Linked DNA regions of Homo sapiens: all the other regions are linked to region 3. Evidence: fine-mapped expression QTL. A gene starts in region 3. Each other region holds a variant in brackets. All regions are shown on one strand. Distances are from middle to middle.

The links. PIP is the estimated chance that this variant, and not a neighbour inherited with it, causes the effect.
Region 1: its variant is fine-mapped to the expression of POLR1D in monocytes after muramyl dipeptide (Kim-Hellmuth 2017, PIP 0.95). The same link has a PIP of 0.9 or more in monocytes.
Region 2: its variant is fine-mapped to the expression of POLR1D in whole blood (INTERVAL, PIP above 0.99).
Region 4: its variant is fine-mapped to the expression of POLR1D in whole blood (INTERVAL, PIP above 0.99).
Region 5: its variant is fine-mapped to the expression of POLR1D in whole blood (INTERVAL, PIP above 0.99).
Region 6: its variant is fine-mapped to the expression of POLR1D in whole blood (INTERVAL, PIP above 0.99).
Region 7: its variant is fine-mapped to the expression of POLR1D in whole blood (TOPMed, PIP 0.97).

Annotation. Positions count from the first base shown.
Region 1 is chr13:27,571,835-27,575,903 of GRCh38, reverse strand. The region is part of intron 2 of LNX2 (ligand of numb-protein X 2); the gene reads left to right. Among named protein-coding and RNA genes, the nearest start is that of LNX2, 47 kb to the left of the region's middle. The variant TC/C (reference allele first, on the strand shown) is at 1,979.
Region 2 is chr13:27,597,443-27,601,511 of GRCh38, reverse strand. All of the region lies in intron 1 of LNX2 (ligand of numb-protein X 2), which reads left to right. Among named protein-coding and RNA genes, the nearest start is that of LNX2, 21 kb to the left of the region's middle. The variant G/T (reference allele first, on the strand shown) is at 1,987.
Region 3 is chr13:27,619,644-27,623,712 of GRCh38, reverse strand. It overlaps POLR1D (RNA polymerase I and III subunit D), which reads right to left and starts at 1,821. Exons shown (of 2, transcript NM_015972.4): 1 at 1,704-1,821; 2 at 264-838. The coding sequence starts at 1,729. The coding sequence ends at 463. LNX2 (ligand of numb-protein X 2) reads left to right here and starts at 3,184. Exons shown (of 10, transcript NM_153371.4): 1 at 3,184-3,338. RefSeq lists silencers at 1,565-2,124, 2,745-3,634 and an enhancer at 2,428-3,156.
Region 4 is chr13:27,666,521-27,670,589 of GRCh38, reverse strand. It overlaps a transcript of POLR1D not described here. Among named protein-coding and RNA genes, the nearest start is that of POLR1D, 47 kb to the right of the region's middle. The variant T/C (reference allele first, on the strand shown) is at 1,834.
Region 5 is chr13:27,677,623-27,681,691 of GRCh38, reverse strand. No RefSeq gene overlaps it. Among named protein-coding and RNA genes, the nearest start is that of POLR1D, 58 kb to the right of the region's middle. The variant C/T (reference allele first, on the strand shown) is at 1,542.
Region 6 is chr13:27,549,972-27,554,040 of GRCh38, reverse strand. It overlaps LNX2 (ligand of numb-protein X 2), which reads left to right. Exons shown (of 10, transcript NM_153371.4): 8 at 602-833; 9 at 3,550-3,708. Among named protein-coding and RNA genes, the nearest start is that of LNX2, 69 kb to the left of the region's middle. The variant C/T (reference allele first, on the strand shown) is at 1,952.
Region 7 is chr13:27,660,843-27,664,911 of GRCh38, reverse strand. It overlaps a transcript of POLR1D not described here. Among named protein-coding and RNA genes, the nearest start is that of POLR1D, 41 kb to the right of the region's middle. The variant A/G (reference allele first, on the strand shown) is at 2,108.

The DNA of each region.
Region 1 (4,069 bases), 48 kb after region 3:
GTGTTAAATATTTTTAATATGCTATTTTAATTCCCGTGTCATTTCTCTTAATTAAAATTATTTTCTTAGTGGTTACCCTGGGGCTTACAATTAACATCCTAGTTTATAGCAGTCTATTTTAAATGAATACCAGCTTCATTTTCACTAATGAATTAGTCAGGGATCTGTAAGGAAATAGAACCAATATATGAGGAGTTGGCTGACATGATTAAGGAGTCTGAAAAATTACACGTTCTGCTCTCTGCACGCTGGCAACCCAGGGAAGTCAGTAGCATAATTCAGACCTTCTCAGTCAGAAGGTCTGAGAACTAGGAGAGCCAGTGATCCCAGTCTGAGGGCAGGAGATGAGATGTCACAACTCAAGCAGTAAGGCAGGAAAATAAGGAATGAATTTCTTCTTCCTCCACCTTCTGTTTTCTTCAGGCACTCAAAGGATTGAATGATGCAACCACATTGGGGAGGGCAATCTACTTTATACTTTATGGAGTCCACTGATTCACATGCTAGAAACAGCCTCACAGACACACTCAGAAACAATGTTTAATCTGGATACCCCATGGCCCACTCAGTTGACACATAAAATTAACCATCACAAGTAGTATACAAAAACTTTCATTCTCTCTCCCCTCCTGTGTGCTATTATTATTATACAAGTTGTATCTTCACACATTATGTGCCCATCAACACAGAATTATTGCTTTATATGTTTTTCTTTTAAATCAGATAGGAGTAAAAGAATTACAAACCAAATAATTCAGTACTGTACTGATGCTCTTCATTTTTCACATGAACTTGAGTTACTGTTTAGTGTCCTTTCACATCAGCCTGATGGACTTCTTTTAGTGTTTCTTGCAGGTTAAGCATGCTACCAACAAACATTTTGTTTTTACCTAGGAATGTCTCAATTTCTCTTTTATTTTTGAAGTCGGCTGGATATAGACTTCCTGGTTGAGAGTTTTCTCCCCTTCTCTGTCTCTCCTTCCCTCAGAACTTTGAGTATGTCATCCCACTGCCTTCTAGTCTCCATGGTTTCTGAAGAGAAATCAGCAGATACTATTGAGGATCCTTTCCTTGTGATGAGCTGTTCCTCTCTTACTGTTTTCAAGATTCCTTATCTTTGGCTTTCACCAGTTTTATTATGAGGTGTCTTAAGTGTGTATATCTTGTGGTTTTCCTACTTGGAGTTTATTAAGCTTCTTGGATGTGTAGATAAATGTTTTTCATCAAATTTGGGAAGATTTTTGGCCATTATTTCTTCAAATATTCTTTCTACTCCTTTCACTCTCTCTCCTTTTGGAACTCTCATTATGTATATGTTTATTCTCTTAATGGTGTCCCACAAGACCATGAGGCTGTGTTCTTTTTTTTTTTTTCTTCCCTGTTCCTCAGACTGGATGATCTCAATAAACCTATCTGCAAGTTTGCCAGTTCTTTCTTCTGATTCAATTCTGCTGTTGAACTAGTGAATTCTTTTTCTGTTTTGTTTTTTTGGAGACAGAGTTTTGCTCTTGTTCCCCAGGCTGGAGTGCAATGGCGCAATTTCAGCTCACTGCCACTTCTGCCTCCCAAGTAGCTGAGATTACAGGCATGCGCCACCAAACCTGGCTAATTTTGTATTTTTAGTAGAGACGGGGTTTCACCATATTGTTCAGGCTGGTCTTGAACTCCTGACCCCAAGTGATCCACCCGCCTTGGCGTCCCAAAGTGCTGGGATTAAAGCACCCGGCCATGCATTCTTTTTCATTAAACTTTTTAACCCCAGAATTTCTGTTTGGTTCTTTATTATGACTTAATGTTTCTTTATTGATATTTTCTTTTTGATAAGACATCATTCTCATATTTTTCTTTAGTTCTTTAGATAGGTTTCCTTTACTTCTTTGAACATATCTAAAATAGCTGATGTAAGTTATTGTCTGATAAAGCTAATGCCTGGGCTTCCTTAGGGACAGTTTCTGTTGGCTGCTTTTTTTTTTTTTTT[TC/C]CTGTGAATGGGCTGTACTTGTTTCTTTGCATGTTTCTTAATTTTGTATTGAACAGTGGACATTTTAAATAATATAATGTGGCAACTCAGAAAACTAGATTCTTCTCCTTCCTGAGGACTTGTTATTGTTGTTGTTTGTTTGTTTGCTATGTGACTCTTATGAACTAATTCTGTAAAGTCTCTGCTCATTTTGTGTACTGGACAGCTAATGATTGGACAGAGAATTCTTTAAATGCCTGAGATTAAAAAAATCTCCCCGTCTTCCATGGGGGTTCTGTGTGCATGGTGGGGCATGCCACACCCTCAACACTCACGCCACTGACAGCTCCACCTTAGCCTACACACACAGCCCTGAACATAGCTGAACCTCTGTGGACGTGTCATTCCCTGGCTCTTCCTTGTAAACATTCTGGTTAGCCTTGTATTTGTCTTCAGGCAGCCACAATCTTCAGCAATGACCTCTGATTTTTTTTTTTTTTTTAACCAATGCTTAACAAATGCCCCCAGTGAAAAGGAAGTTTGCCCTGGGTGAGCTCTGAGTCAAGCCAAGTAAAGACAGGCACACAGTCATACAGGAAACAAGTATAGGGGGAAAAAAAAGAAGAAAAAAGACAAGCACACAAGAGGGGAACCATAGACAGGTCAGTTAATAACAGATCTCTGGGAATAGGGCTTTGAAGGTTCTCCAGTCTGCTCTTCCAGTGTCTGCCAGCCTCCTGATTTCCACTGTGATGTGGGCTGTTGCTTTTCCAATATTCTGGGGAGGTGAGGATGGAAATAGGGTAAACTCAAATGCCACAGAGCTCTCTCTTCTTACTGAGAGTCAGCCATTTTTCTTGAACAAATGTTCTCCCTACTGCTATAATTCTTTGGCTAATTTCCACACTTCAGAAATGGCTGGTTCTGACAATTTCTTCCAGTGTTCTTACTGCTTTTATGGAGGAGAGACTTTTCAGATATTCTTAATTCACCATTTTCACTGACATGACTTGAATTAATTTTTGTTTATTCCCTAGCTATTTTTATCATTTTTCTTGATTCTAAGGTGTTCACATTCTTTCAGTGTCATTAAATACCTGGCATTGTGCAGTGGTTAGTATGCATTGTTTTATTTTGTTTCTACTGCACTACCACCACCCCCACTATTAATACTAATATTACTGACAATAATATAGTGTGTTGTTGCACCATGTGTTTCCTAGTGTGAACTAGCTCATATGCAGTTGTTATCAGGGAATGATGTCACTGTAGCATAAATCAAATTAGTCCATATATAATTTTTCCCTTAGGAGGAGAGCCAGAATAGTGGGAATAGAAGAACAACCTTCAGCAGGAAAGGAAAAATCCCTATTTGGGTCTTGGCTGCTGCAAGAGCATTTTGGTTTTATTTAAGAAAATTAAAAAACACACCTACATGTACAGATCCCTCCCTCAGGAGGTGCAGCCCTCAGCCCATGGCAGATTGCACTGCCTCAGCAGCCCACCATCTCAGAGCTCCACTGTATGGTCTCAGCATGTGCCTACCTCAATCTAATTAGATGTCACATGCTGTTCTGTTCTATTGTTTTTGTTTAATTTTGATATCCTCTGTACTAGTCTCCTGCTACACTGAGTCACCTGCCTGAATAAACCAAGTCACCTCCCCCAGTGCAATTTCAGTTTGTGTTCTTAAATGTTCCATTTCCAAAGATGGATAGGTTTTTATTTTTGTGATTTCTGTTTTTTAATGATCGCTAATACCCTTCTAGCCCCAACGTTCTGTGATTGTGTTTCTAGGTACAAATTTTTAGAAGAAATTCAATTTATATTTTCCCAAGGCCTAGAAAAAGAATACCATAGGAATGAATTTAGTATGATACACTGGAAAGAACAGAAGCTAGAAGCCTTTGAAATTAGATCTGAGTTTGTTTGGATTATGGCTCTGCAATTTAATATCTGTGTGATGTTGGCTTAGTTGGTTAAGTCTCAAGTTTCCCATTTTTAAATGGGGATAACAGAGTAATTGTGAGGATTTAATGAAATAATGTATATAAAGGTTGTTACGTAAGTAATTGGCACAAATTAGGCACTCCACAAATGTTGAGTTTTTC
Region 2 (4,069 bases), 22 kb after region 3:
TGAGGAGTTAGAATTTAGAGAAGTATCATTCTAGTTTATTAATGCAGTTGTCTTTCTTTGGGGCTGTCATCAGTTTTCTCAGCAATGTCTGCAGATAGGGTGTTATAAATCATGTGGTTTCTGTGGAATTGCATCACGTATTGCTTATATAATGTCTTTCTTATTTTTTCTTTAATGATGGGGAAGAGGGAGGGAACAGTAAAAATATCTTAATTTCAGGTACTGCTGAACGTGGACTTTGGAATTAGATGGACCAGAGTTTGAATCCCATTCCAATCACTGATAGCCTAGTTGTTTTTAATCCCTTGGATCCCCGTTTTCCTCATCTATAAAATGGTAATGGTGATGGTAACTACTTCATAGGGTTTGTTGGAAAGATTAAATGAAATACTGCTTGTAAAGCAATCAGTATAATGTCCAGCCTGTAGTAATAGTGAATAAATTGAGCTATGAAGGAATAAATCACTGGAAATGGACTTTATAAGACTCTTCCGGGTTGTTTGAGTATCAAGTGAAGCAGTCAAGTAATATGGTTAAAGGAAGATAGGCCATACATCAGGCTTATCAGTGTTAAGCCACTTTAGTCTTTGTGATTCTGGGGAAGTTGACTTGATGCCTTGTTACAGAAGTGACCCAGGTCTGGCCCATTAAAGCATCACATGTCCCTGGCTACTGTGATTGGTTCAGCATAGGTACATGACCAAGCCAGCCATTAGAAATAGGAAGATGTAATTCTGGGGCATTTGTTGGCAATATTGTGGAAGCAGAACAAGGGGTCTGACACTGTGCCCCTAAAACTGCTGGGAACTAGCTGCCACATGAAGCCTGAGAATGAACCCAATCTAGAGGAAGCAGAGTTGGGAGAAAGCCCCGAGTCAGTAACACCTATCTTATTTTTCACTTAAGCCACTTTCAGTCAGGTTTTCCATCATTTGCAGCTGAAAGAATTCTACACACAGTTGCTCACCCAGTATCTTATATATTAATGTTTCTTACAGATTTCTTTACCTACTGAGTAATTCTACGGTTATGTTTCTGTACCATATATATTTTGCATGTATAGTGGCTAATCTACTGGTTAGATTTTATGTTCTTTGAGGAAACGACTTACTCCTGATATGCATGCTTTTCGTCCCCATTGGAATATCTGTACCCATGTTGTCCAGTACAAGACACTAGCCTTTTGTTGGCATTGGGTTTGAAATGTGGCTAGTCCCAACTGAAATGTGATGTAAGTATAAAATGTACACTGTTTTTGACATGTAAAATTTCAAAAACATAATATGACAAAAGAATGTGAAATTTCTCGATCATTTTGTGTCATTGGCTAGTAAATGTCTTTGTGCTAGACTGAGCTCTGTGAGCTCTCCAGAGTAACCCTATCCTCTGGTGCAGTGCCTGGCATGCAGCAGATAACCAACACATATTTGTTGAATGAGTCATGAATTTTCTGGTACATAACTGATGTGCCTGTTAGTTATGTGCCATGCTGGCTAACTGATAGGGGAAAACAAGATAAAGTGGTTTTAAAAAATGTATTATTCTTTACTCTTAGGTTTTCTTCATCTAGGCTGTTTCCATGGAAACAGCAACCAAAAGATTTTCAGGATTGGCGTAATGCTCTTTGGGTGATATTTGCTGCCATTGTTAACCAAGACCCACAAGTTTAAATATTTAGATGTGTGTTTCTTGAGTTTGAGATCCAAAGTGTAAAAGTTTGATTTGAGAGAAAGTTGCTAAATATTTGCCTCTTTGGGGTGCCTTTGAAATTCTTCCCTTCCATTAACATAATCTGCAGGAAAGTAAGAGTTGCCAAAGTACAGGTGCTATTCTATTCCTACAAGATACCTTTGTTATTGTTTTACTTTATATTGTCTATTCCTAACTTACTTCCTAATTATAGCTTTGTAAATATGGATTACTAATTGACCTTTACCTGGTTAGAACATAAGTATATTGTCTGTAACGTAAATGAATTTCTTTTAC[G/T]GGAATCGTAAGTTCAGATTGCAATGAGGATGCTAGTAGATAAGGATAGAGGAAGTTATATCCCAAATTGTTCAAACACCTAGAGCCATTGGCAGGAAAAACCAAGTGGGATTCCAGATCTTGAGGCACTAATTTACAAAGTAGTGGTGAGTGGCCTTAGAAGACAATGTTGTTCCAATGAGTAAACAAAGGCTCCTTTTGGTATCTGTATGTTAAAGCCCTAGGAGAAAAGCTTCAAGCTTGGTTAAAACTTTTCTGTATAGACCCTTTTATATACAAAGGTTGCATTCAAAGCACTGTACAAATTTTGTGCCCCATGACAAATATAAATGAATGTTTTCCAAGAAGCTTTGTGAGAGATTGATAGGCAGCTCAAAATTTGAGATGCTATTCAGTTTTGTGTTCATTCAAATTGATTTTGATATCTGAACACAGAAGCATATAATTATTGAATTCTGTGGATACAAAAAGTAGTGTCAATTTTGAAGCCTCCATTTTATTACAGTAAAAATTAAAAGTGAAAATACAGAATTGTGGAAAATTTTTTGTGAGACTGAGAAATGAGGTCCATCCAGCATTTTGGCCCCCATATAGATGGCAATACATGTTTTCTTCTGGAAAATTAACAATAGAGGGTAACTTCCCCTTGGATCTGTCATTTACTTGTTTATGTAAACATATATGTGTATATGTACATGTTTGTGTATATATATACTGTATATGTGTAGGTATGTATATATTTTGGTTTGTGCAGCCTGCTTATATTTACTATACTGTAAGTACTAGGTACAGTATATACTTTAAAATTATAGCTCTGGAATCAGACTGCCTGATTTGAATCATGTTTCCATCCCTCACTAGCTTTAGGTCTTGGGCCTTACTCTCAGTTTCCTCATTTGAAAAATGGGGAGGAATGTGAGAATAGTATCCATCTCAGGGTTATCTTGAGGATTAAATCTGTTAATTCTCCATCCCAGTTGACACTATGCCTGATATAAAGTAAGTTCTAAATAAATGTTAGCTATTATCATTCCCTCTCCCAATCTATTCCTTTTACATGTCAAAATTGACCCCATGGGTTAATCCCTGTTCAATTTAGACTGTGTATGATTTTGTGACATCGGTCTCATCCCCTTTTGTTTAATAACAAAAATCCTAATATTCTGTCCTTGTCCTGTGTTCTTGTTTTTTCACTTCTAATTTTAGTGGCCTACATCTCAACCTTTTTCTAGCTGTACTGTTTTTCTTTAGGTAATTGGACTTTGATGTTTCAGCCAGATGTGGGCCATAGGTGTTGATCATGTCTTTTTTTTTTTTTTTTAAACAGTGCTGAGACCCTTACCCACTCCTAAGTGGTGTGGTAAGGATGTGCTAAGTGATGTGCTGCAGTGAGCTGGAAGAAGCTTTGTAGATTGTTTAGCACAGTGCCCCAGTTTTTCAAAGCAGAAGGCTAGGGCCTGAGGCTGCAACTCCTGCTGATAATGGACATTTGTTGTAAATTGAAAGACATTTTATTTCTCAACAGTACAGTTTATAGAGTAAAATAGTAAATGGATTATCAAATTTTGGCTTTTTGGAGATACCAGGAAATTCTTATATTTATGAGAAACTACTTTTGAATTGTAAGGAATATAGGGATATTTTGATGGGAAATATGAAGAAAGTTCCCTTATAATTCTCTTTTCTTTGATATGTCTATGCTGGTTATGGTATGCTAACACCTTTTCTTACCCGCTTTTCTTCTTTCTCTCTTTTAAAACTTTTGTATCCTAAAATGTTGCTCAAATCCATTCCTCCTTTGACTGTTCATAGTCATTCCCTTAATTCAAGCTCTCATTACCAGTCATCTTGGCCATTGCAGTAACTTTTTGTTTTACCCCCCTTCATTATTGCCATAACTCTGCTGCCAGAGTTACCTACCCAGACACATGGGTCTAGTCACATCATTTGACTCAGGAACCCTTGCTTTCTCTCTGTACCTAGTCCAGCCCTCAGACTCTCTTTTCTGTCCATCCACCCCCGTTACATGCATATACCCACATAGAGTGCATCAACTATTTCTGAAATATCAATTTTTAAAGCT
Region 3 (4,069 bases):
CAAGAAGCCAAGTCCCCACCCCAATCTTCTTTCCTTCTGTTTTTAAACAACAATCTAACTGGGGTCATGGTTTTTGTCTCTTCCCTTACCCCCACCACTCCAACTACAGACATGGATATATACTTCTTTTAATTCCCATGATCACAGTTCTTGTCTAGGCCTCTGATATTCTCAGTTTCCTCATTTTCAATGCTGGCTTAATTAGAAAAAAAGTCATCCTCAAGGACCATTTGGTTGCATGGAACAGAAACCAGTCAAACTAGTTTAAATAAAAGAGGGAATTTATTAGAAGAATACAGAGGTTCTTGCAGAGATTCCAACAGCTGCAAGGGGTCAACAGCTAGAATCACGCCTTTCTGAAGGACAGAGTATGCTGTAACCACAAACTTCTAATTCTGGGTTCTGCACCATCAGGAAGAGAATATCCTACAGGACAGTTCTCCTTGTATACTGCATAAAGGACTAGAATGTGGATTCATTTCTGCTTGCTTTTTGATCCTTATAGTCCTTTATGCTGGCCTCAAACTTGTCAAGCACATGTTGGCAGACATTCATGAGCTCATTCAGGCCTCTCTGAAATGGCTCAACAGCTGGAAGGGTACCTCGAGTCTGAATGCGTAAATTAATTTTGCTCTCTGAAGGATGGGTCGTAGTGTAACCACAAAATTCCACTTCCGGGTTCTTCATGATCATGTAACGTAGAGAATTTCCTAGGGTATGGTCTTCCTCGTGCAATACAAATGTCACACAGTGTCTATCTGTTCCAGCTGCCTGGACCATTTCCAGGGCTGTCTTCCTCTCGCCTTCAGCCATTGAGGTCTTCAATCCAGATATTTTTCTACACACATATTTTTTATAAAAATGAGATCATACTGAATATTGTTTTGTAACTAGCTTTTTCTCATTTACTATATCACATTGCAACACATTATTATTAATCTACTCCAGCTACACAGAATTATTCGCCTCTCATTTTCCTGCCTCCACAAACTCTATCAATAAATATTTAATTTATTGCCTCCAGTTTTTCCCTGCTCCATTTGACCATCCACACTGGCCACAAGGGGAGTTTTCTTAGAAAAACACAAACTTAAGTGTTTGCAAAAATATTTTTTGGTAGAGTCACAAGCAAGGGATAGGATTAGAATAGGACTGGTCCTGCTAGAGGATGAAGAGAGGGTTGAAAGGCATAGAAATCCCGATTGCTCTAGTATAAAAATAGAGGATACAGATGATCAATGTGCAGGCCCAACTACGGCTTCCATTTTGCAAGAGAAGGAAACTAGGAGAATGGAAGGTTCAGGAGTCAAGCAGCAGGGAGAAAAAGAGCTCAGCGCACAGAGTGGCTTTAGGAGCAGTCTGCACATAGAAAGAAGGTGAGCCGTAGTTACAGGGACAGAGGCACGAGTACCGTCCTCAGGAGCAGAGGCCCGGGGCGTGATTTTTACACACTGCTGTTGTAACGGGGGTGGGCAGTTCGGATACTTAACTCTGGTCTCCCAACTTGTCTTCCCTCCTTGATAGCTAGTGTACCTCTCAGCCTCTCAACTGAAACACATTCATGTCTCCTCCCCACTTCTCTCTCCATGCTTCTTCTCTGCGCCCCGAGTCAGGCCCCGGCTGCCAGGCCAGGCAGCGTGCCCCTCGGCCACCCGCTCCCCTTGGGCGCGGCCCGCTCCGCCCGCCTCCTCCTCGGCCGTTACCTCTCCAGCTCCTGATCCTCTTCCATCGCTGGGGCGGTTTCTGGATCCTCAGGTGGTGCTGGCGGATCGGGGGCTCTGTCCCATAGCGCGAGGCGCGGAGGCGAAGCAGGAAGCAAGGACCGACCGACGGAAGGCGCGGAGGACGGAAGGAGGGAGGAGGAGCCGCAGCGGCGCGGCAGGGCCCAGCCGCGGGGCGGGGCATGAGGCTCCACCCCCAGCCCCCGCCCCGACGCGGGGTGAGCGGTGGCTCGCGGCCCCGCGGCTCACCTGGGCGACCACGCGAGGCCACTCGCGGCGGGAGGGGCAGGGGGCGGGGCCAGCGCCGCCTTACCCCGAGGCCCAGACAGGCCTGCGGGCGCCCCGGCTCAACTCTGGTACCTTTCCCCAGGTGATGGCGAAGGGGCGCGGCCTTACCTGCCGCCCCCAAATCACTTCCCTTCCCAGTGGCAAGTCCGAAAGCGGCCCGACTTCCCAACTGGGGCGGTGTTGACCCAGGATGGCCCTTCCTGGGACCCCGGCCCTCCCGGGCCTTTTGTGGGACGACAGGCTTAAACTGTAGTCGGTCAACACACCTTGAAGAGGGAGGGGGGTCACGTGCGAGATGAGTCACCACAGAATACGAAGGTTGAAGGCGGTATTTGTTTCACCGGGGAGCTTGCAGTTGCATTTTCAACTGGGTCAAAATAGGGCAAGAAAGAAATGTCTCTTTTGGGGGAGTGAGAGTTTGGGAGAAAACTGTTTCCCACCTTATCCTTTCCGTCCTAGGATTCCTTCTACCCCCAGAGCGCGTCCTCTCCGGCTGTAGACTTCCTTTTCCCTTTCTCCCCAGTGGCTCCTCAAACCTCCTCACCTGCGGAACCCGCCCTCACCTTTGTTCCCAGGCGCCCAGCCCCCGCCTCGGCAACCTTTCGCCGCCCAGGCTCGCTCTCCATCCAGCTCCCTGCGTCCCGGCCTTCGCTGTGCTCCCTCAGGTGCGCTTCCTCTCGAATCGGCCCTTCTTGTCCCCTCGCCGCTGGCCCCGACCCTGCCCGACTCCAGCTGTCCAGCGCAACTACGTTTCTGCTTCCCTGCGCCACCTGTTCTCCTGGCCTCCCCCCACCCCGCCCCGCGATTCCTCTGGATGTTCACTCCTTCCCCAGCTGTGCCACTCTTGGCGGCGGCCGGGGGTGCGCGCAGACACCTAGCCAGCGGGGCTTCCGCAGGGGAATCAGGCGGGCGGCGGGGACAGCCCGGGGCGAGTGGGGGAGGCGGGCGGCGAGGGCGGAGTGGTCTCACTCTAACCCGGGAGTGACGGGTCCCTTCTGGCCCGCCTCCCGAGCTCTCGGATAGGTGGAGCCGCCCTCTGGTCCGCCCACCTCCCGCCCTGTGCTACCTCCGATTGGCCCGGGTGCGGGTTGGGCCGCTCGGCCTTGGCGCTGCCCCCGGGAAGGCAGCAGGGGCGGTTGAGAAGTGAAGTCTTGGCCGGAGTTTGCTTTTTGCCAGGAAATCCGCGGCGGCGGCGGCGGCGGCGGCGATTCCTGGCGGAGCGGAGCCGGGCAGGCTCTCCGCTCCCTCAGCGGGCCGCGGAGAGCGGGAGCTGGTGCCGAGCAGCGGCGCCAGGAGCCCGTGCGCGGCCCGGGCAGCCGCGCTTTCCCAGTGAGTAACTTTGCCCTGCCCGCCTCGCTGCGCGCCCTCTCGCTGGCTGCGGGCAGCCGCCTCAGGTGCGGGCGTCAGCTGGGTGTGGGTCAGCGCCGCGCCCCGGGAGGCGGCCGGAGCGGCGCCACAGCTCGCCCCGGAGCCTTGGTCCTTCGCGGCTGTCTTCGCTCGCCCGGGCTGCGGGGCTGGCGTGGACTCGGGTGTGGGTCTGGTCCAGGAGGGAGAGTCGGCGCCCGGTGCCCGCCGCCTGCAGGCGCCCGGGAGGCGGGCGGCCTCCGGCTGTTAGCGTTTGCTGGTTCCGGCCACCGTGGTGCAGAGCTTGGCGTCGTTTGCTTCTTAAGGGAAGGGAGAGGTGGGGTGAGTGTTTAAATTTCCTCTGTGTGTGTGTGGTGTCGGCAATGAGAGTGGCACTAGCTGCCTTTATCGGGTTTTGTTCTCTGGAAAGGGATGGGGAGAGATCATTCCCTCCGCCCCAGCCTGTTGCCTGTGAATTCTCACCTTTCTCTTTAGGCTGGAGAGGGTGGGAGAGAGATTTGACATCTTCCAGGGGGTAATTTAAAAATATGAATCTTGATTTGGAAGCAGTTGCACACAAAGCATCATTCAGGAAATACATCACTCGCTTTTCAAAGCTGTATGCCACGTTTTAAACAAGGACTTTTGACTCATGTAGTGTTTCTTTTAGTATTTCAGTTTACGTTAAGTTTATGAATCCAGACGTTCGTTTGTAC
Region 4 (4,069 bases), 47 kb before region 3:
TTTATGTGGAGGAGAAATGTCTCCCTCAGGTGTTTCATATGATGTGTTATATCTGGTATTTGTTTCACATAGAGAGTATTTATAAGTTATCGAAACCAAAGGTGAATATTACAGGACTATATGGATGGGAGAAATAGTTCATCTTTCATCTTACTATTAATGATGCTCCAAAATCCATGTTTATTATTGGCCTTTTCATGGTAATGTTCATTGAGATTTATAACATGGGTTACCAAATAAAAATGTATAAGTTGCCTTTGAATTCTGCCTTCAGTGTTGCCTTGCCAGTTTAATGGGGATTAATTTACTTTCCTCTTTATGTGTTCCTGTGTGTAAAAGGGCATGCTTCCTGGGCATCTTTTCCATGTTGAGAACAAGAGTTTCCACTTGGCAAACTAACCTTCTCAGTATCTAGACTCAGAAGAGCCATGGGTGAGGCTCAATTTATGATCTGCTGACATGGCTTTCCAAGAGATAGTTTCTCAAATTCCTTGGATTATAGAATGTTTTCTATGGTATCAAAGAGGCCGCGTCCCAAGGATTTCTTTACTCCCAAATCTCACTATTCTTATGGATGGAGAAAAAAAAATTCAAACATGGAAGATCTAGAATACTGGCTTCACCTGAGGTTTTAGTTTTCCATAGCTATATTCCATTAGCTGCCATTTAACCATTTCACAAGAGTTGTGAGAGTTTTTCTCTTGGATTCAGATCGCTGTCTACACTGGCCCTTGGGAAACAGTTCCCCATACAAATGTTCTTTGCTGGGGCTTCCATGTTCTGATCTATGGGAGTAGATTTTGGCTTGCAAAATGCAGTGATTATAAAAGTTCTTTAGGTTCTTAAATTGGGAAGACATGGAGCATATACACCTTGAGACGACCCTCCCGTCCTGTGTTTTGAGGGAGCCGAGTTTGGATTAAGTTTGGCATAGGGTACAGGAAAGAGTATGGGTTTTTGATTCAGAGAGTCTTGGCTTCAGCTAGCATTTCTGCCACTTCCTAGTTCTGTGATTTTGGGCAAAGTTTTTAATCTATCCTCAGTTTCCCTTATTTGTAAAATGAAGGTGAGTAGCATCTTCTTCATAGGGTTGTGGGATAACTACCTGAACACAGGTAAAAGATATAACAGTGTTTGGCCACAGGTGATAGACAATCACTGTTACTGTCCACACAGTTCCAATACAGCCTACAAACACCTCATAGGGAGAATATTTATGGGTTTCCTAGATTCAGCTCCTCTGGGGAGGGGAGTCCTCTATACTGGATCCCAGGACACAGAACACTCCTTAGGAAAGTGATGAGGCTTCATTTCATCAGGAACCCACCTCATATAATGTCTATTAAATAGGCACTGCTTATCCACCAGATACTCTTTATGATTCTAAGGTGATGGCATGACCTCTACGAATGACGAATATGTAACTAATTGTAAAAATATGGGCTGGGTGTTGTGGCTCACGCCTGTAATCCCAGCACTTTGGGAGGCCGAGGTGGGCAGATCACCTGAGGTCAGGAGTTCAAGACCAGCCTGGCCAATATGGTGAAACCCCGTCTCTACTAAAAATACAAAATTAGCCAGGTGGCACATGCCTTGTAGTCCCAGCTACCCGGGAGGCTGAGGTAGGAGAGTTGCTTGATCCTGGGAGGCAGAGGTTGCAGTGAGCTGAGATCGTGCCTTTGCACTCCAGCCTGGGCAACAGAGCGAGACTCCATCTCAAAAAATAAATAAATATGTAAGTGCCATGCTAAGTCACTTGAATAATCAGTGAAAGAATAAATGCTACCCCAAAGCATTTTTTATGCTTTGAAGCAGATGTGCCAATGTGCCCCC[T/C]GCCCCCCTGCCAACCTCTCAGCAAAAAAGAAGTCCACAGGGAAATTCAAAACTCCACAGCCATCTTCCAGAATCAGCTCTGAGGAAATGTCCTTTAGTGCTTAGCCTGCTGAGCCCTAAAGTAAAACCCACTGAGATTTATAACATGTGTTTCCAAATAAAAATTTATAAACTGCCTACTCAGAGGGACCTACCCTAAGTCCCTCCCCCTTCATAAATGGGCGATTCAGAAAGACTAGCCACCAATAGGTGACCAGATATGGCTAGGAACCATAGCTTTTTGCTTATATTTCTTACAGGCTGTTTTCTAACATGAGATAAAACAAAAAATTATGTCAAGTTGCATTTGTGTTTAAGTCTTAATGGTTTCTAGTGGAAGCATGGAACGCAGTTCCTAAAATTTAGGGCTATTTGCACTTCTTTCTTTACCTATTGAAAGTTAAAGACTCACTCCAAACATCTTAGTTTGCAGATGAAAAAATGCAGTCCAGAAAAGTGACCCAGATAAGGCCTGAAGCTAGCCAGAAGCAGAGGCAGGACTAAGATTCAGTTTCTCTAACCTCTATCCCAGGCTTTGTGATCTCTAAATATAGTTACAATGGAGATCAGATAGTAACACAGGCGGATGGGAGCTCTTGGCAGCGCCAGTATGTTAACCACAGAAACAGGAGGTGGCTGGTGAATGTATCTCATGACCAATCCCTCCCCTAACATCTACTGTATACATAGGGAATAAAAAATAGATAATTTTCTCTTGACATTTTTAGACTGGAAATTATGGCTGCTCTTGATAGAAGCCTAAAGATTCCAATAAACTTTTCTGAAATAGAACAGTGCTTTTAAAAGGGAAAATGGTTTTGTAGGCCACTGTCGTTTAACACAACTTAAGAAAGGTAAGTATAGTTAGGCTAAAAAGCTTCCCTTAATTTTGAGTACAAAAATGTGTTCATTTCAGTCATTCCCTTTTAAAGGATAATGAACTTGTCTGTGTGTTATAAATACAGAATGCAAGGCTGGGTGCAGTGGCCCACGCCTGTAATCCCAGCACTTTGGCAGGCCGAGGCGGGCAGATCACCGGAGCTCAGGAGTTCGAAACCAGCCTGGGCAACGTGGCGAAACCCTCTCTCTACTAAAAATACAAAAATGAGCTGCACATGTTGGCGCACACCTGCAATCCCAGCTACTCAGGAGGCTGAGGCAGGAGAATCGCTTGAACCCAGGAGGCGGAGGTTGCAGTGGGCCGAGATACGTGCCATCACACTACAGCCTGGGGGAAAAGAGCGAGACTCCTTCTCAAACAAAATAAATGAATAAATAATGAATAAATACAGAATGCATACACAAATGACACAATTCAGCTTTATTTTTACTTAATTATAACAATTTTTAAAAACTCCATGACTTTGTGCTATTTCTAATATTTAAATAAAAAACATTTCAAATTTTGCACAAATAATTTAGGCCAATACATAACTAGATTTGAATAAAGTCAGATGAAGCAATAATTCCTCCTCTGTGTTTGAAAGGAATGAGTGTGGTTACAAAGTCACAGGATGAGTCCCTGGGATCTGGGGTGGGAGAAGGGGTGGATCAAGAATGACTTGGGCTTGTCACTCCCTAGCAGGCTGAGGGCGTGACACAGCAGCTCGGTGGCGGAGAGGTCTATTCTAGTTTCTAACACTCCAATGCTAACTTTTTGGATGTATTTCCTTCTAGCATGTAGAAAGGGCTTTTCTTGGCTGCCAGGAAGTAGGGAGCAGGGATGTGGCATGGTGATGATCTGAGGACAGCCAGGCATATGCTCAGACACTTTGGAAAACTGGGGAGGGGGAACAGGGAGACAGAATCTTCATCTTCTTCCTTTTGTGAACTGGGGAGGAGGGTGCTTGGTGACATTTTCCTGAGTATAAAGAAGGAATACAGGTTTGAAAGGTTTGTAATTGTATATGAAAACAGGTATTGAAAACCAATACTGGGGGAAAAAAGGCATTGTAAACACTTCTATTTAAAATGAAGATTTCTGGAACAACTATACTATATAGTGGTATCACAAGTCTTTAGCTGGTAAGATCTAGCACTGAAACAACTCTTAATTTTTAACTTGTGAGGGTTCTTTTTAAAGCACCACTTAAGACCTATATATTAAAAAAATTAAATATAGAAAGATTGTTCTATCTAATAAATGAGTTTGAGAATGCACAGGAAACAACAAAACCCATTTTTAACCTCTGGTAAC
Region 5 (4,069 bases), 58 kb before region 3:
TTCCCTCATCATTCTCCTCTCTCTATGGATATATAAATCCATTCATTATATGTATATATTCATTATCTGTAATTATACCTTTCCAAGGGCTGTAGTTGTTCATCCTCAGTGTAAGAGAAACCTCTGGGAGGTGGACAAGGTGAATAGAAGGAAAACAAGACTTAAAGCGACAACAAACTTAAATTGTAGGCAAGAGAAGGACTTAGGTATCATACAGTTTATATTAGCTGACTGGTTTTCCAGCTCATACAGGTAGTCCTGAGGTTATTTTTCCTGTATCTTCATGCAGTTTTTCAAGACTTCAAGGTAGTCTTTACTCAGTCATAGATGCCAATGGGTAATCCCTTTACCTTTCTCACACTGAGACTGCATTTGTTTTCCTGCAGGAAAAACCCTTGAACCACAGAGAGAATAGAAAGACTATAATTAAAATTTGAACATAGCTCATTGACTGGGTAACACAACAGTTTGCATCCTCTTCCACTTAAAGAAAATCAAAATGCTTGCTGGGCTTCTTTGAATCTTGGAGGCAATATATGTCTAGAGTGACTTATTTGCCTGGAACAGTTCAAGTCTATGCCTGTTGTCTTGACGTATTTTAAGTAATTCTTTTGTTTTAATGTGCTTGGACTGGGACAACAAATTCCATAGTGCCCTACTCTGCCATATTTGAGTGTGATTCTCTATCCATTTACCAAGAAATATGTAAAGCTAGCAGGTCTGAGTGGCATCAAGAGCAAGAGAATGCTTCCTAGCTGGGTCATGCACAATGTGACTATCATCCTCAGGCTTTATGATCTAGCAAATCTAGTGATACTCAATATGTCTGAAGTAGAAGATACTCTATTGAGCCCTGGGCAAACTCATGGAAGAATTGTAGTTCCAGTTACAGTGTTTGAAAGAAGCTATACACTCCTGAGCAAATAGCTAATCTCCTCTTGAGAAACAGTTCCTAGATGTCTATTGGGTCTGAGTGGGGACTAAACACTTGATTATAGGGCATTAACTGAACATATGACTCAAACTGCTCATTATGAACTGCCCATTATGATGTCATCCAAACATCATACATTTGGGCATATGAAGCAGCACTTTACCTTCAAACCAAGTGTTCATATGGGATCAGGCAAAAGCAGGTCCTGAAGGCAGGATCCTGAAGATCAGGCACCACCTGACAGGTAGGATTCAGAAGAAGTGGCTCAGACTTCCTGATGTCCTGCTCATCTCCTTCATCCCTCTGGTCTCATTTACAGCTTTCTTCTGCTGGTTGTAGGGATGGCTATAGCATTACAGCCCCACTCATGGGTGGCCCTGAAGGACACTGGGGAAAGGAATCTTCCCAGTGGGCAGAACATCTAGCAGGACATTGGTTGTCTAGCTTAAATGGAAGAAGAAGTCAGAGGTGCATATCTATACTGACTCATAGTCGCTGGACAATGATTTGGCCAGATGGTCAGAGACATGCTAGAAACAAGATCAGAGAATTAGAGACAAGGAAGTTTGCGCAAGAGATATATGGCCAAACCTCTTAGAATGCACAG[C/T]GTGAGATAAATTGATATCTTACATGAATGTTTGCCAGAGGGAGCCCATGGTAGAAGAGGATCTCACTAACGAAATGGACAACATGACTCACTGTGTAGACCTCAGTGAACTACATCTGAGGAGTTTGTGTACAATGTGGTCATGGTGGCAGGGCTGGAGATTAGGCATCCGTGGATATTGCCACTGTGCTGATCTGACTACCACTACCACTGCAGAGTATCCAACTTGCTAACTACCATTTAGCACCATGCTCTGAAGGGACCAGCCAATCTCCTAGTGGCTCATTGATTGCACTTGACTCCTTACATCATGGAGAGGGCAGTAATTTATCCTCTTTGAAGCAGACATTCTGAATATAGATTTGCCTTTCCTGTCCACCATGCATCTAGCATCTCCATCCATGGATATTTTTTGTGTCTTATTCACCATCATGTTATTCCTTACAATGTTGCATCTGCCAGAAATTTATTTGACAGCAAAAAGGTGACTCAATATGCTCAAAGGATTCACTGTTCTTAGAATAAACACCATCAGCTAGAAGTCACTCATCCTATAGAATGGTAGAATGGCCTTTTGATGACTCATTCATAATATCAACTTGGAGATTTACAAGTGAAGTTAGGGTTTTGTTCTATACAACAGCCAATATATGGTGCAGTTTCTCTTCTTATGGTGCATAAGCAGAAAAAATGGGTCCAAGAATCAAGGGGTGAAAGTAGGAGTGGTACCTACCACTGTGACGCATAAGGACTCACTTGTAAAATGTTGCTTCCTATTCTGGGTTTAGGTCCTGCTTCTTTAGAGGCCTGACAAAGAAGGCAGGCTTCTAGAGGGGACTCAACAATGGGTCCAGTGAGACAACCACACGGCCATTGTGGCTTTTGATGCTAGTGAATCAACTGGCATAAAGTGGAGGTGCTGTGTTTGCTGAGGTGATTGCTCCTAATTAACAAGTAGAAATAGGGTTATTGCTGCACTTTATGGGCAGAGAGGGGCTCTATCCCCAAATACCTGGAACTTGAGTTCTTTCCTAATACAGCTATGACTAGAGGTAAAAGTTCATGAAAGACCAGCTATTTGATAATGACATTTCAGTTTCACTCAGCAGGGGCCATTGCTTTTTCCATGCTTCCCAAGTCATTTTAGCACCAGGCAATAGCCATAGAATCCCCTTATCCTTGTATCTACTATTTCTTCCAGAATTCTCAAGCACCTGACTCATCACCTCTGCAGTGCATCCCTTTCCAGAAGTCCACTCTCCTGATTCACCACCAGTGGAAGTTTTAACAATGGAAACACCATCTGTGCAAGGTGTCCACATTGCTAGCTGGGCGGTGAATGATTCAGCTCCAAAATCCCATTTGATTGCCTGCTCTTTCCAGACACAACTGCAGCAAACTGGATTGTCTAGACACAGATGATGAGACAGAGTTTAGGGTGCAAGAAGCTAACTAGGGATCAACACCTGTGTAAGGAAGCAGGTGGAAGCACAATTGAAGTTGAGAAAGATGAAGAGGTTGAACTGCCCTGCAGGCCAGATAGAGCCTTGCCAAACCAGTGGGGAACTCGGAGGAAGTCCTGCCTGCCAGTTTCCCATGTGGAGCCGAAACAGTCGTGCTTTTATCTCTCCACCTTGCTCAGTCACCAGATGCAGGCCACGCCCAGAAGGGTATGTTTTTCTCTGCAGCTCAGACTGATGTTGAGGAGCTGGGAGCTGGAAGCCACCTGCTGACTGCACTCCCTGCAGCTGGTCAGCCCATCCTTCTCGAGGGGCATCTGAATGGCATCTTCATCAGGTCTACAATTTTATGTACATGCCACATTCTGGGCTTTCCCACTTTGAAGCAATTATCAGTTATGAATGTTAGGAACACTTTGTACAAGTTTTACCGTGACCAAATGCTTTCATTTCTCTTGGGTAAATATCTAGGAATGGAATTGCTGGGTCATGAGGTAGGTGTATGTTTAGTTTTATAAGAAACTACTAAGGCTGGGCCAGATGGCTCACGCCTATAATCCCAGCACTTTGGGAGGCCGAGGTGGGCGGATCACTTGAGGTAAGGAGTTCAAGACCAGCCTGGCCAACATTGTGAAATCCCGTCTCTACTAAAAATACAAAAATTAGCTGGGTGTGGTGGCACATGCCTGTAATCCCAGCTACTTGGGAGGCTGAGGCAGGAGAATCGCTTGAACCCAGGAGATGGAGGTTGCAGTGAGCCGAGATCGCACCATTGAACTCCAGCCTAGGTGACAGAGTGAGATTCTGTCTCAAAAAACAAACAAACAGACAAAAAAAAAAAAACTACTAAAGTGATTATGCCATTTTACTCTCCCACCAGCAATATATGTTAATTCTGGTTGCTCTAGCTCCTCAATGAGATTTGGAGTTGTCAGTCTCCTTAATTTTAGCTCTTCTGTTGGGTGTGTACTATCCCATTTTGGTTTTAATTTGCAACTTCTTGATTACTGACGATGTTGAGCACTTTGTCAAATACAGTCATGTGTCACTTAACGATGTGGATATATC
Region 6 (4,069 bases), 70 kb after region 3:
CATTGCCATTTTTTATTATATTACTTAGCAGAGCAACAGTTCTTTTCTTCCTGAAACAGGGAAGACATTCAAACCGCAAGTTTCATTTCTTCATGTGGGCCCAGGGATAGCTTCTTTGTACATATTCTGATGTTTGCCCTGAATAAACTATACAGGGCTGTCCTTATGTATAGAACTGTGTAAATATAAAGCAGAATACATTAAAGATTTATTTCTAAGGGCAAAGGATCAAGTGATTTTTGATTGGACAGAATTGTAGAAATCTCTGAAACTCTTAAGAAGAGAAATGAACCTGCCCAGGGCCTGTACACAGCTAAACTCAGACTGATGATTCGAACTTCCAATCATGTCAAGGTGCCTCAGGCCACACTTTTTTCTATGTATTATGACATTATTTTAAAATTATGGAATGTTTTCTGTGTATTGGGTTTCTTCTCAATATTATAAAAATTACAAAGAAATAATAAATGCCATTTATTATTATACCTTATCTCATCAGAGTTGGGGGAACTAACTTTTGTTGCTTAGTTTATAAACAACAAGATTTGCAGGTGAAAACTCAGTGGCTCAGCTCATTTTTCTTGTTTCTTCATCTGAACAGGTGATGTGTTGCTAAATATCAACGGCATTGATTTGACCAATTTAAGTCACAGTGAGGCAGTTGCAATGCTGAAAGCCAGTGCCGCGTCCCCTGCTGTTGCCCTTAAAGCACTTGAGGTCCAGATTGTTGAGGAGGCGACTCAGAACGCGGAGGAGCAGCCGAGTACTTTCAGCGAAAATGAGTATGATGCCAGTTGGTCCCCATCATGGGTCATGTGGCTTGGGCTTCCCAGGTACTGAGCGCTTTCTTGTTGCTTTATGGAAATCATAATCATGCTTGCAGCCCTTATCAGTGTGTAGCATGATAAATTTACTCGTTGGGATAAAAAAAAAAGCTTTAATTCAGTAAAATAGCAACATCAAATCAAATTACAAAAGAAAAGGATAATTTTTCTTAGGATATTACACTTTAAAAGGTACACAAAGAAAGCAGTTGTGTCCATTCCTGTCAAGGCTCCTCAGTGGGCTAGCCATGAGATTGGATAACCCAGCCTCTTGCTTAGAAAAGTTGTCGTTTACCAGCACTCATTCCGCTATGTGCTGAGACTTCATGCATTTTTCATCAGAAAACCCAGGCCAATCTTGGGGCTTCCCCCCATCCCAGAAGCCTTTCTTAACACCTTTTTAAATTTATTTTAACTCTCGCTAAAAAGGGTGGCATTTAAAACTCAATTTTTATTGGATACAAGAGTCTATTAAGCCAAACCATTAGTGTTCAAGAATGGCTGCTTCACTTTTATTTTTTATAAATGTGACCAGCCAAGATATGCTGTGGTTGGTCAGTGTCGGGGTCACAGAAGCACATGGAACCTCCAGTGGCATCCCAGGGTACATTCCTTTCCGCGGTTGTTGTTTGACATTTGAGATAGGAAGAATGTGTTCCTATCATCATTTGTTGTCTAATCCGTTTAGATTCTTACCGTACCTAAGAATCCTAAAACTAAGCTATGAAGCATTTTGACTTTTGACCAAGTATGAAAATTATTGATTCTTTAAAATAAAACAATAAGAATTTGCTATTTTCTGAGCCACCTGACTCGTGGGATACATTTATAACAACAACTAGCATTTATATAGTGCTTCAAGGCGCTTTGCGCATAGTGGGTGAGAAGTGGTCTACTCGTGCAGTGGCTGGGCAGCACGTTGCAGACCTCAGAGCTTGTCTGCACCTCTAATGATGGGGCAGGCAGAGAGCAGCAGCGTCCTGGAGAAACTTGGTCCCTAGTGCTTCCTTTAATTTTCCTTATCTGATATACCAGTCTAGTTTGGAGGTTGGCACATTGACCTCTTTTTTTCAGAGCATTTTCTGGTGTGCCAGGCATAATAGCAAAGATTTTAGATGAGAAATACA[C/T]AGTATAGTAAAATCTGTTTTTGAGCCCACCTGTGTTGAAAGAATACCTGTCGATAAAAGGCTACTATTCAATGTGTGTATGGAGGTCTCTGTTGAATGCAAAGCTATATTCAACAGCCATGTGTCCTCCTCAGTGGGTGCAGGTGGCCCCTATATGCAGGTTTCACACGGCATAGTGTAGCAGCTCTGCTCTGCTTTTCGTGAAAAGGGAGATTCTTCCACTGCGATTTGCTGGGGTATACAAGAAAGCTGTTTGTTTCAGAAGATGCAGCATTAGGAAAATAACCAACACTGTCCCTTTAAATCCAGGCCAGTGCATGGGACCTTGTTCCATCCCAGAAGCCTTTCTTATCAGTGAGCTAGGAAACTAGATAAGATGAGAAGTTCTGGCATGGTAAACATTGCTTTATAGAATTGGCTTTATTAAGAAATAATAAAACAGGATTTTTAAAATTAATTATTTATATTATGTATATTTATTATTTTATTATGGATTTAAAACAGGAAACCTTGCCTTCCGTGCATTTAGATCCAGTTTCACCTAAAGATGAAAGATATTTATTTATTATGAAGAGTTTTTTTTTCCTTATCATTTAGGTGTGCTTTTTTTGTTTGTTTTGTTTTTAAGATTTTACTCACTGCTTGTTCCCAAATCCATAGAGCTATGGAAACATAAGTACATTTTTTTTTTCTCCCTCTCTGGACACATCCTGCAATCTGGCAGTAGCATTCTAACTGTAGTTTCTCAGTGTCTATGATACATTTATATATGCATGTGTGTGTATAGATGTGTATATATTTTCTTTTTTTTTAAAGATGGGGTCTTGCTCTGTCACCCAAGTTGGCATGATCATAGCTCACTGCAGCCTCAAGCTCCTGGGCACAAGCCATCCTCCTGTCTCAGCCTCCCAGTAACTGGGACTACAGACACATGACGCTGTACCCAGCTTGTCTATGATAGAAAAAAAAAGAAAAAGATTTTTTGTTAGTGTTTTTCAGATTGATTTCTCTATTTTGGCAATTAGAGTCTCCCTTAAAATGAAAACATCCTAAGTAAAGGAGAAAATAACAAATAACTCCTCATGTAGACTAAAAGCCTATAGGACCTTTAGAAAAGAGAGATAATTATCTGCCTTCTTTTCGGAAGCTGCGTTCCTAATCTTTTTCTTCTTTCATTTGCATGCTGGGCTTGGCAGTACTAGACCTCTTTCATCCCACATTGTAATTCCTCTTGTAGATAAAAGTGATTAGTAGAATTGAGGACTTTGTTGACAATGCAGTGAGCTGATATAGGTACATGACCTTTTTGTACAGGTTACTGAGGTGTAATTTGTAACCAGGTTCTCTACTTGTGTGTGTGTGTGTATGTGTGTGTGTGTGTCTTCACTTGGGAAGACTGAAAAAAGTTGGAGAAATTTGAGTCTACCTAGGACTGTGTCTCTGCTAGAAGATGGATTGTCAAAATAATCTATTTATTAATAGCCCTTTTTCTTTTTTCCAAGAGTGGTAAATATAACATGGTATGGGGTTATAACAAAAATAAGCGGCTATAAAAGCCTCCATGTTAATTTTTTCTTTATTTTTCTGTTTGTTTATAGCACACTTCATAGCTGCCACGATATAGTTTTACGAAGAAGTTACTTGGGAAGTTGGGGCTTTAGTATCGTTGGTGGATATGAAGAGAACCACACCAATCAGCCTTTTTTCATTAAAACTATTGTCTTGGGAACTCCTGCTTATTATGATGGAAGATTAAAGTGAGTCTTGTTCTAATTAATGATGTGATTCATGTTGATGACATTGGACATGATCTAGACCAGGGGTCAGGGGTCAGCACTAAATCCAGCCCATTATCTTTTTGAAAATAAAGTTTCATTGCAGTGCAGCTACACTTACTGGTTTATGTACTCTCTGGCTCCCACACTACACCAGCGGAGTTGATGTCATCATGACAGAGACTGTATGGGTCTTGAAGCCTAAAATATTTACCATCTGACCCCTTACGGAAAAAATTTGCCAATCCCGATCTAGACTGAAATGTTACCTTTACTGTCTTGTCACTTATAGCTATGTTTCATTAATCTGATGACAGAAACTGAACCTGAGTTATTTCATTGG
Region 7 (4,069 bases), 41 kb before region 3:
AAATGAGAACGTTCATATTTCTCTTAGCCTTGAGGTGTCTGCCATATGATGGGCTACTTTAGGAGTATGCTGATTCTCAAAATCATGTTATTCAGGGTGGCTGGTATTAAACAAAAACGAATGTAGAATAGCCACATTTCTATAAAACTTTGATTTACAGAGAACCCCAAACAATACTTCAAAATCAAGCCAACAACACTCCACATAGGAATTGTGTGGACTAGTACTGTACAGGTGAAGTATAAGCAGTCAGGCATTAGCATAGCCTCACTCACAGAGGTCAGACCATCTCAGAAAACCAAAATGGCACTGAATCTGGAAGTAAAAGGAAGAAAAACAAGAAAATACCTCCTGCTGCAAATAGGTAGCTCTTGAGCCTACAAGGACAGAGAAAATATCTGAGAAAAATGGTCAGGCCAGAAAAGTGACAAAGGAATGAACTAGAACAAGGAGAAACTTAGAAAAGGACAGTGGAAAATTAGAAAATTTAAGAAAAGGACAGTGGAGTGCAACAGAAATAGTGGGAACATTCAGAGGTGGTGACAGCTCTGGAGTTTAGAAGCCACAGTGAATGAGACGAAGGGCAAAGAAGAAAGGCAAAAACAAAGAAAAAACAGTTCTGCAAGTACGAACTATAGAGCTTCACAGAGCTTCCAGAAAAGGTACACCAGCATTACGCTGCCTTAGTAGTCTCAAGGTAAAGACATTTCTACCTCCTGGGGGCACGCTGGCATTAGGACATTCCTGTGCGGGAAGACAGGCACGTGATGAGAGGCAAGCCGAGTTCTCCTGCAGGGTCTGACAGGGTACTACTGAATGCAGGCGTTGCTTTGGTGAAGACACTTGACCCACTGCAGTTGCAAACTCAGCAATGATTCAGAACAGTATTAAACACTGGCATGTTCCAAAACAGCATAACACAGACAGCCTACAGGAAAAACTACCCTCCATCACAGAGAGTAAAAAGCTTAGAGGGCCTGTCTTTGGCAATGGTGGCCTGGTGCTTACTACAAGAGCAAAATCTTTTTTATAGACAAATGAACTACATATGTCTCTTGGATATATAGGGCTAGGAGTAGCTGGTGAAACATGTCCAGCAACAGAAGAATTCTGGGGTCTTTTCACTGAAGTGGGCCATCTCAGTGGTGGTAAACTGGCCAGTTCTTCTCTGCATTAAACAACAAGGAAGGGTACTTTTCCCAGACGTGATGGTAATCCAGGATCTCAGAACAAAACCTTTGGTAACTACTGGTGAATTCCACTCTATTTTGCTGTTTTCAATGTCAGATCATCTTTAAAACCAAATGCTTCCTCGAGGTGAGCAAAGCCCTGCTACTAACTGCAGCATTCACGCCAAGAGGCAGAGGGGACTGCACCTATCTTCCAACTGCTAGTGTAACCCACTGACTCAACATAGTGACCCAAAGAGTTAGCCAGAGAATGAGATGGTTTTATAGAATAATTCCACAAGAAAACTGGCATTTACATCTCTTTTAACATCAGAGATGCAGTTTTTTAATGTTGGTTATGCCTGGGATTCTATTCTAGGTAAATAGCCAAGGGTGGCCTGAGGAGATCTTGGTTTACTGGGGTGGGGTGGAGGTGGGGTTTGAAAGTCAGACATCTCCCAGGCATGCCAGTACACATTTTAGAAGTGATGACAAGTGCTCATTCACACTCTACTAATAAATAGGGCAGGGCAATGAGATACAGTAGTTGCAAGCAGATGTGAAGGTACATATAGTAAATCATTTTATATAAAGAAATTCCAAAATCTGCACAGAATAGATCCAAGTCTAAGGACGGCAACATCAAAACCAATGTCTGAGGGAATCAGTGGGGAGAGCTTCTCTGGCCTTTAAGGTAGAAATTAATTTTGCTGAATCTCACAGTTGGTTGTTTCATTGCTAAGAAATCACACTACATGAGACAGTGGCTGGGCACACATGCTCTGGAATCACACTAACAGACTGGACTTTGGGCATGTTATGTAATCTCCCTGCTGCCTCTTAGCTGTTAAGTGGGGATAATAATGGCGACTATCTTAAAGGGTTGCATGCAGATCAAATGAATTAGAACATGTAAAGTACTCAGAACAATGCCTGAC[A/G]CATAAAGGCATTTGGTTAATTTCAGTTTTGGTTCACAGCCTACTATTTAATTAGCTGTGTGATCACAAGCAAGTTACTTAACTCCTCTTTGCATTCGTTTCCCCCACTTGCAAAATGGGAATAACAGACGTATCTACCTTATAAAGTTATTGTGAGGATTTAATGAGATAATGTATAAGGCATTTAGCATGGTATCTGGCATACAGCAAACTGCAACAAATGTTACCTACAGGTCCACAATTTCTTATCCCTAATTCCAAAATTTAAAAACCTATTAAAACCAAGTTATTTTTATGACACCAAAGTTTGTTTGGCAGCAAAACTTGATCTGACCTGACTTTGGGCTATTTATATAGTCTTTATCCCATTTAATATAAACATTCATGTTTTGCTGAAGAAATGATACCATGTTGAACAAGTACAGAGTAGTGGTGGGGGGGGTGTCTAGTACATGCTATCTGTGCTGTAATACCTTTCTAAAATGTAAAAATATCTAAAATTAGAGACTTATTTGGATACAAAGGTTTTAGAAAAAGGATGGTGGACATATATTATTTTACTCTCTCTTCATGAGAAAGAGTACACATAGCTCTCAAATAGGCTAATACATCCGGAATTTTTGCAAGATGGCAACTCAAGATATCCCAAAGCCTCAAATCACCTGTGATAATAAGTTAATCAAGAACAGAGTAGAATCTCTATGAAAGAAAAGATTAAGAAAAAAGTAAGCCATCATTAAAAGTTAATGAGACATTTTACATAAGTTTCCAAAAAAAGGGTTAAAATTTAAAAGTTTTGGTACTTTTAACATGGTTAGATTTGTATTTGTAGAAGTTTCAGATTCCCGGCTATCTCAATTCTCCATTGCCACCGGGATCAAGAGGCTACTACATACTACCTTTGAGCTTATCATTTGTATTTCCAACTGTTCCACAAACCCTCTAGGCCTCTGTCCTCAGACGTAAAACTAACGGTTGAAGTAGGTGGGTGATCTCTAGAGTCCCTTCCAGTTTTAGGATCCTCTGCTCATGCTCTGTACATTAACTCTTTAGAAAAGTTCACTCTTCTCATTCATCACATTAGGAAATTATTTCTTACTGCCATTTCCCGCCTCCCCCGATCTTCCACAGTATTTGAGATGACATGATAAACTGGCATTAGACACTCCACCATTCCTGGCTTTTCTCGTATCAGCTTTAGGGTAACCATCTGAGCCCTGAAATTGAGCATAAGATCATAGGCCACGGCTGCCTGCTGTGTCTGCACTGTCTGTCACTGTCTATGCCCAAAAGGTGTGCTGGGGGAAGGACTGGAGGAGGCCACAGGACAGGGCAGCTGATTTCCTGTCTTAGCTCTGACCTGGGGGGCGACTTTCTCACCCTGGCTAGTTATTTTTATATTTAGTTTATTTTTGTTTCTAGAAAGTTATGCTAGCTCACATGGTAAGAGCCAGATTTAAGGTGCTAACAACATAAATGGATATAAACCCTAAATATCATGAGACTGGTTAAATCTGCTTTGGAAAGTACCCATGACACAATGTCAGATTTGAGATCTGGCATTCTATCCAGGTTAAACTTTAAAAGGAAAGCAATTTCCTTCACTTTGAAACCTGTGGGCTCAGAGGCTGTGATGGAAGGGTTCCACATGCCATGGGAAAGGCTGACTGCTCAAGAATCTGCCACTGGAGAGATGAAGACTCACTGGGGCTAGAATTATAAGCTTTTCATCTTTTTTGTCTCTCTTGCTGAAGGATAGAGGTAGTAGTATCTAACTTTCCACAGATTTAGACCTGCTACCTTTTGCTTCTAAAATATTTCCTGAATAGGACCTATCTGAGAGTGACACAGGATCGCCAGCCAACAGGGTACGTTGAAGACACAATTACCTTGTGCTATTCCATTACCAATGTTGCCTCATTTCATCTCCACAGCCGTCATCCGAAAGGAAAGAAAAGAAAA